Linked DNA regions of Homo sapiens: all the other regions are linked to region 1. Evidence: fine-mapped expression QTL. A gene starts in region 1. Each other region holds a variant in brackets. All regions are shown on one strand. Distances are between the middles of the regions.

Region 1 (2,763 bases):
TTAACGAGGAATAGTCCTGTATAAAAGCCATTGAGTCAGAGGGGGACACATCAATTAAAAATAAAACCTGGAAATATCATTCAGCAATCTGCTTTTAGATCTTTTTAAGCTGATGAATTTTATTTCAGTAAAAACAATGAAAAGTAAAAATTCTCCATCATTTTCGAAAGGAGAGACATTAAAAAATAGAGGGGCTAAAAGGCAAAAATGGAAGAGCACGAAACAACTGATCATGGCTGGCTATGCTAGAATTAAAAAATAAACTCTTAAAATAGGACCAACTAACATTTACAAATGATAACGCATCAGAACTGTTCTTTTTATTTTTTTGTAACAGGCAAGAAAATGTAAGGGTAATCTTAAAATACACAGTTAAGGCTTCACAGGAAACACATGAGTATACTACTCACAAAATCCTTGGAATAAACGCTACTTGCTCATTCAAGGGCATCATCATTCCACTCTAGATGGCCTCTTAAAGTTTTTTCTTACTCATGTAGGCAGATGTAACTGCTCTTCTATGCTTTTATGACACCTAATAATATCTTCATTATAACAAGTAGCACATTATAATTGTCTTTCTCTGTCTCCCCAGCAGCCTGTAAGAAGGTCAGAACTGGGTCTTTTCAAATATATATCCACAGTCCCTGGTATTGTAGGAATTATAAAAATGTCGCAACTAATGGGTGTCCTGCCTTGGGTTTAGCAATCATATATTATTGACTTCTCAGAATCCTGCAAGGTAAACAGTATAGATGAATTACACTCAAAGAGGTCAAGTAGTCGATGCTCTGTGAGTGGCAGGTTAATAACGGAAGTCCCACAAGGTAGGTCCACAACTTGGACCCACAAGATAATGACAGTGTGGCTGTGTAAGACTATAAACCACAGAGATGATCTCAGTAAGGATGGAAAACAGATTACGTTTTTAAAAAGGTCATCCTCATGAAAAGGAAAATGATTCCTACAGAGGAATGACAGCTCGCGAAGCTTCTTAAAGTACAACATTCAAGCACCACAGCACATGCCTAAGGGAAGCATTAGAAGAGATTAGAAGGAAAAGGCCGTGGAGACCTCAATCCCTCCTCCTCCCACCGCGGGCCTGGCCTCCACCGCCACCTCTGCCAGGCGGGCATGGAAGGGGCGACCTCTCCGATGCGCACTGCCGGGCGCGAAGCCGCCCGCGCACCCTCCCCCAGCGCGGCGCGTGCCACTGGCCCGGGAGGCCCAGGCGTGGGCAGCCGGGTACCTAGCTCGGCCACGGTAGCCGCGCAGCCGGACAGTAGGAATTTGCTCGCTCGGGGCCATCTCTGGGTCAGCGGCAAAAGCCTCTCCTCCTCCTCCGGGACGGACATTCAGCAGTAGCGCAAGACGATAACGCACTCCTTCTCGCCGCTGCGCTGCACCGCGCCGCGGCGGCCGCTTCCCTGCCAGGGCGGCCCCTTTTCAACCGGCGAGTGGCCGGGTGAGGACCATTTCCCTCGTTCGGCTCGGCCGGGTGGACCCGCAACCTTCCTAGCAGTCCCAGCTGGAGTGGTCCAGCTGCCCCTTACACCCCAGAATAGAAAAACACAGCGGAGCCCAGGAGGTTACTGGGCAATGTAGTCCGCCGGGCTCCGCTACGTCTCTGATTGGCCGGCCGCGGGTCCCTCTGCGGCTCCGCCCCCGGCCTCCATGGCAACGCGGCTGGTTCTCGCCCGTCAGTCCTAGCCCGGCCCTGCCCCTCCTTGCATTTTTTCCGCGCTGGCTGAGATTCAAAGAGAAGTGGAGGTGGGAGGGAGCGACAATGGAAAAATCACCTGAAAACTGGGACAGAGGAAGGAAGCTACAGTTACGAAGGAGAGCTGCAAAAGTTGCAGCAGAAAGGTTGGGAGTCCCGACAGGTTCCGTAGCCCACAGAAAAGAAGCAAGGGACGGCAGGACTGTTTCACACTTTTCTGCTTCTGGAAGGTGCTGGACAAAAACATGGAACTAATTTCCCCAACAGTGATTATAATCCTGGGTTGCCTTGCTCTGTTCTTACTCCTTCAGCGGAAGAATTTGCGTAGACCCCCGTGCATCAAGGGCTGGATTCCTTGGATTGGAGTTGGATTTGAGTTTGGGAAAGCCCCTCTAGAATTTATAGAGAAAGCAAGAATCAAGGTATGTGGTCGTGGCAGACGGGGTCTCCAGAGGAGACAATGCTTTCTTTTTTAAACTTTCTTTCATTGACTCTTAAGTGCAGGGCTAGAACACGGGGAACATACCTGCTTGCCTCAACTAAAGGATCTAGTCATTTCTGAATTCCTCTACTAACAATTAACAACAATATCCTGTGCAAAATTTTGCGAAAGAAATGAAATACAATTGCAGCGTGCATCGACATTTTTGGAAGTAGAGATTAACTTTTCGTATTTTTACTTCATCGAAGTTAAGTTCCAAATGTGTATGTGTTAAGTAAATGTTTTCAGTAATTGGGAAAGATAAAGTGTAATCCAATTTAAGTTTGTGAAAATGAGTAATTCGTATCCAAATTGGAGTTAACACCAAAGTATTGTACAAATTGCTTGCACAGTTGGTCCGTACACAATAAACAGGCTCTGTATTTTTAGCTGACGTTGTTATTTGATGATGATGTACTCCATTTTCACTACGGCCTGAAGAGACTAGTAATCCTCCTTGTAGTAGATGTTTTTGTCTTGAAAGTATCTTTTAAATGTCTGAGCACTTTAAGGAACAGACCTTTATTAATGTCTTTTAAGTTTTATTCAATTTCCAGTCACA
Region 2 (2,763 bases), 22 kb after region 1:
GCATTTTCCCATTGCCATGCTCTATTCTCAAGTAAACATCTTTTCTTAAAAATAAAAAAAAAAGATAGTAGTATCTGCATCTTGGAGTTATAGTGAGGAGTGAAATGGGTTAAATACTTGCAATACACTTAAAACAGTACTTGCCCTTAGCAAGCAGTGAGTTGATATTAGCTCCCATTATTTCTATCACCTAGACATAAGTTATTTAAGATTAAAAGTAGATGAGTAACTTAATGAAAATGTTACAGTGTCTGAATTTTTTCCCATGATGGAGAGCCGTCACTGGCAAAGACAAATCTGGGGAAACCGCCCGATGAAGAAAATACTTTAGTGGGATTTGTTTGGTGACTTGAGAACAACATGTCTTGAGATGGGTAGCCTTGGATGGGGCCCTGCCCTGAGCTGTCACTGTTCAAGTCAAATGTCCGTTCTCTGTATGGTTTTAGAGTATTGTGGTATTTGTAATATTCTGGCTTGGCAGTTCTGTCTCCCATGGTGAATGGGCTGAGAATCTGTATGGTGGATGGGGGTGTAGTTTTCTCCTGAATGCACCAGAGATGTGTGTTTCTCTATTGCTTGCATTTTGCTAAGAGCAGAGGTTTATAAGACAGGGATTCCAGAGCAGTGTGGAGGGCAGAGATAATAACACACAATTTGCCAATTCAGTTTGGTAAAGTAGAGATCCAAAGTGCATTTTACCCTCTGAAAGGTTTTATTTTAAGCACTTTTTAGGTACTAACTCATTTAATTCTCACAACAATCCTACGAGGTAGGTACCATATTATGAACATTTTATGGATGAGGACACAGAGGCACAGAGAGATTAAAGTAGCTTGTTCAAGGTCATCCAGCTCTTAAATAGCTGAGCCAGGATTTGAACAAATGCAGTGAGGCGGTCAAGCTCCAGAATCCCTACTCCTAATTACTATACTACAGTAAGGACATAAATCCCTTCACATGCCTCAAACTGCAAAACCTGGGAATGGCAGAAATGATATCTTTCATATTAAAGAAAAAGGCATGATCTCTTGTTTATTAACATCGATATTTGTCACATAGCCATGGTTTGGCAATGTTTATTTCTTTTAAACAGACATTATTGCAAGCTACGCTGGATATTGTAGAGACGGAAACAAGTAAGGAAAACTCACCCAATTATGGGCTCTTACTGCTTTGGGCTTCTCTGTCTAATGCTGTTCCTGTAAGTATATTAGTAAAGTATGAGTTACGTTGCTCTCCACTGTCCTTTCATCTTTTTTTCCTTCATTTCTGTCTTCCATTCTTTTTTCCACTCATCACTCATTATGGAAAAGAAAAAAACTACAGTGGATTTGGTTGTGAGATAAAAACCAAAACTGAATGCCTAATGAAATCTGATTAGGTTACAAAGGAGACGAAACAGATCTCAAGCAAATTCTGTCCTCTGAAAGGCAGTGTGTAACAGGATGAGGGAAAAGCTTGCCCTTTGGGGCCAGTTGTAGACAACATCTGTTTATGGAACACTTTTTGTATGTCTACCAATGTGCTCAGTATTGGTATTGAAAAGATGAATAGGGATTGGCCACATGCTTTTATTGGAAAGAGTAAGTAAATGGATAGTT[T/G]CAGGTAACTTGGGCTTGGATCCAGACATCCCAATTTGTAGTTGTAGACTGTCATGGTGGTAATTTAAATTTTCTGTGCCTCCATTTCCTAATAAGAGATAATGTACTATTTTACCTAATAAGGGTAAAAAAAGGGATAATGTATGTGAACCTCCCACTGTGGTCTTAGAACTTGGGTGCTCAATAAATGGTAATTCTCATTTCTCTACAAAGTTGTTATGAGGATTTAATAAGATAAGCCTAGCTGGTATCAATGAATATTAGCTCTTTCTCTCCATTTGTACCCATTCTCCTTCTGTGTGCCATTCCTGTTTGCATTGCTTAGCATTATGGTCCTACAAGCTTCCGCATGAATGGTGCTGGTGAAATTGGAACTTTCAACACTTCTAAAGAGAGGCAAGACTTAAAAAACTGTTTTTTGTGGGTTTTTTTGTTGTTGTTGTTGTTTTGTTTTGTTTTGTTTTTTTGAGATGGTGTCTCATTCTATCACCCAGGCTGGAGTGCAATGGCGTGATCTCGGCTCACTGCAACCTCTGCTTCCCGGGTTCAAGCGATTCCCCTGCCTCAGCCTCCTGAGCAGCTGGGATTACATGCGTGAGCTACTGGGCCCGGCTAAAAAACTGTTTCTTTTAAAATCTGTCTTGCATTAGATTAGAGCCATGAGATTTGTCTGTCACGTCATGTTCAGTGCCAACAGTTTCCTGGGCCAGGAGGTTCTCACATTAGCCTAAGATGCTACTTATATTATCTGAAATTAAAGGGTAACTTTTTAAATATACTTGTTTTCTACTAAACAGGAGGATTTAACCTATCCATGATGATATGTGTGGGCATTTTTCTTCCTTTTTCTTCTAACAGATAGAAATTAGGAAGATGTTTTAAGTATTATTTATTTAGCCTTACTTTTATAAAGGCCTAGGTTGTTAAAGGCTTTCTCAGTCATGATATTCTAGTTTCCCTTAACTTGTTGAAAAATTTACTGCATAAAGAGAAGGGATAGAAATTCTGGCCTCTTTTCTCAAAGGTATGTTAGCCAGTGGAATATACATTTCATCTGATATGGTCAAGTAAAAGTAGTCTAAACCCTTCCCCTTCTTTATGTACCTATAATATTCTTCTCTGGTTTTTCCTTAAATAATATTCTTGGAAACTGATTAAGCTA
Region 3 (2,763 bases), 90 kb before region 1:
AGAAGAAGAAGAAGAAGAAAAAGAAGAAGAAGAGGAAGAGGAAGAGGAAGAGGAAGAAGAAGAAGGAGAAGGAGAAGGAGAAGGAGAAGGAGAAGAAGAAGGAGAAGGAGAAGGAGAAGAAGAAGAAGAAGAAGAGACAAAAAAGGTGCAAAATATTGTAGTATGTTTTGAATAAAAAAATAAAATTTTGACATAATACACAGGGCTATATAAAAATAAGGCCAAAATGAATCTTGATCTTATGAAAATATTAATTATTTGTTAACTACAAGTAGTAGGGTCTGCTAATGTGATATTCAGTTTGTATGATATATGTTTCTCAGTGCTCTTAGTGTGCCTTTGTGACTGAATGAAGGTCAAAAGTCTACATTCAACAGTCTCTCACCTATCCTGCAACAGGTCACAGAGGCCACCTGGGGAAATATCGATGGGCCAGTCATTGATCTTTGGTCCCATTGGCTCAAGCACTGGGACTAAAGTTTCTGGATAAGGTGACTTCCATGAGACCTTTTTTCCATAGAATCAAAGTCATTTTTAGATCAGGAAGAAACTCTGGAAATAATGAATCCAAAACTCATTTAACAGGTGAGAATATTGAGAGCCATTGACATTAAATTATTTATTTAAAGTAACACTGCTACTGTGTTTTCATTCATCTCTTACCACCTCCCCCACCCCAGCTAAGTTCAACATACAGAATAGATGCACAGCAACTGCATGTTAAGGGTTCAGTTCAGGGTTCAGTGTTCAGGGTTCAGGGTTGAGTGGGTGTGGTCTGGGCAGCACTGCCATCCATGAGCTGCTGACTCATGTTTGGGACACTGAGACTTGATTCTCTCCTACCTCCTTCCAATTCTAAAGAGGATGATAATAATAACAAACCTGTATAGTCTTTGTTCTAAGTACTTTAAAACACATTAACAAATTTATTTCTGTGGGGCAGTTACACTTATTATGCCTACTTTACAGAAGCAAAAACAAAGGCACGTAGTAATCAAGTTACTTCCTTAAGTTTACAAAGCTAGCTGTGGGACAGTTCTGGTAGTTTGGTTGCAATATCCATGTTCTTATCTACTGTGCTACATATTGCCTCTTGAGGTG[G/C]AAGTCAAACTTACATGCAAAAGTTAATGAAGTTAAGACTTCTGTCCCTGGGAAATAACCCAGTTTCAACTTCAATATGTATGAAAGAGGCAATACAGTAAAGGGACGGAATGGTGACTTGGACAATGGGAATGGCAGGAAGGAAATGGAATATTTGTTAGATGCCTTCGTGCATCAGGCATTGTTCTAAGTATTTTATGGATATTATCTCATCAATCCTAACACCAAGCCTGAAATACAGATAATTTGCAGGCAAAGAAACAGTCTCAGCTGCTCTGCCTATGGAGTAGCCATTCTTTTCTTTCCTTACTTCTTTCTTGAAAAAAAAAGAAAAGAAAGAAACTGAGGCTCAGAGGGCTTAAGCATACTCAAAGCAGGTCTCTGTATTTCTTGTTGAGTGTTATGAGGATGACAGCTGATAAAACTTGGTGCCTGATGGCGCTACTACCAAAGCTCATACCTCAGGCAAGTTCTAGAGTTCCCTGCATCTGGGACTAGGAGGGTGAGAATTGGGTTCCATCTGGGCTTCTGGATTATTCATTCCCTTCTATCTATATCCATTTTGCTGGAGCTTTCACAGGGCCTCCTAGTCAAAGAGTAGAACCTGAGATGACATCTTGGACCACCCGTGGGAAGAGCCTGGAGAAAAAGCATGTGTTGGATCTAGGATTCCAGCATTGCTGCTGATCAGCCCAAACTAGAAGTGTGTGTCAATCCATCAGGAAGCTTGTAAAATTTTGTTCTGTGGAGTTAGGATTTCCAAGTGGGCCATATTTCCTCTAAGGTGTTGTTTTACTAGCAGATACCAGCTTCAAAGACACAGCTATGGCTCTCCTCTCAGTCTCTCCTGTGTGCTGCACAAACTGAAGGTGGGCCTAGGTAGCTCCCTCACTCTGTAGACTTCGACTGTTGCATGGGTTTACAAAAGGGTTCTATATCACTGCCTTGGTATCTCATATCCCTCCCACCAAGGAGCCCTTGTCCAGACATGTCATCCTTTCTAGCCTCTCTGGTGGACCGATTGTCCCTGAATCACGTTTCTTGAAGGAGTCTCTTTGGGGGATACTTTTACATTTCAAATATTTCCTGAGCACCTGATCACACATGTGAAAAAGATCACATCTCTCTTTGAGTAGTTATTAATCTAGTTGAGGAGGTAAGATATTGCACAACAAAATGTAATCGAGGCTATGTTAAATGCTGTAAGAGGGGCACCGAAGCACTTGAAGACTGGTATATAGGAATAAGCAGGTATGCTGGACATCCTTCATTTGTCTCATCAGATCCACTCTCCATTTTTCCCACCTGGCACCCATGGGCTCTGGTGCCACTGGTTTCCAGTTGGGCCTGGGCAATTTCCAGCATGAGATTGAAGGATGGATGGAGAATGGGTTTGGAATATTTAGTCCCTCGGCCTCCTTCCTGCCTGAGTGCCAAGGGTTTGCTGTGAAGGTCACAGTTCCTCTCTGGTGGCCTTCTCTATAGAGTTGGTCTTGCCAGGTCACAGCTACTGCTTTCTCCTCTTGCTCCTGCAGGCCCATGCATGATAAGGGCTCTTCAGTGTTGTTTGCCCAGAGGCACTGCACTATGCCTTGTTGGGTTTCCTAAACTCTGCTTTCACCTTTGTCCACATTCACTTTGTTAAACATTCATCCAATAATC

Evidence for each region.
Region 2: its variant is fine-mapped to the expression of SLC25A27 in tibial nerve (GTEx, PIP above 0.99). The same link has a PIP of 0.9 or more in esophagus mucosa.
Region 3: its variant is fine-mapped to the expression of SLC25A27 in sun-exposed skin (GTEx, PIP 0.90).

The regions. Positions count from the first base shown.
Region 1 is chr6:46,651,785-46,654,547 of GRCh38, reverse strand. SLC25A27 (solute carrier family 25 member 27) reads right to left here and starts at 1,573. Exons shown (of 9, transcript NM_004277.5): 1 at 1,250-1,573. The coding sequence starts at 1,355. It overlaps CYP39A1 (cytochrome P450 family 39 subfamily A member 1), which reads left to right and starts at 1,730. Exons shown (of 12, transcript NM_016593.5): 1 at 1,730-2,142. The coding sequence starts at 1,966. RefSeq lists silencers at 1,136-1,235, 1,666-1,755 and enhancers at 1,416-1,545, 1,776-1,825.
Region 2 is chr6:46,629,401-46,632,163 of GRCh38, reverse strand. CYP39A1 (cytochrome P450 family 39 subfamily A member 1) reads left to right here. Exons shown (of 12, transcript NM_016593.5): 6 at 1,094-1,201. Among named protein-coding and RNA genes, the nearest start is that of CYP39A1, 22 kb to the left of the region's middle. The variant T/G (reference allele first, on the strand shown) is at 1,602.
Region 3 is chr6:46,741,626-46,744,388 of GRCh38, reverse strand. No RefSeq gene overlaps it. Among named protein-coding and RNA genes, the nearest start is that of ANKRD66, 3.9 kb to the left of the region's middle. The variant G/C (reference allele first, on the strand shown) is at 1,102.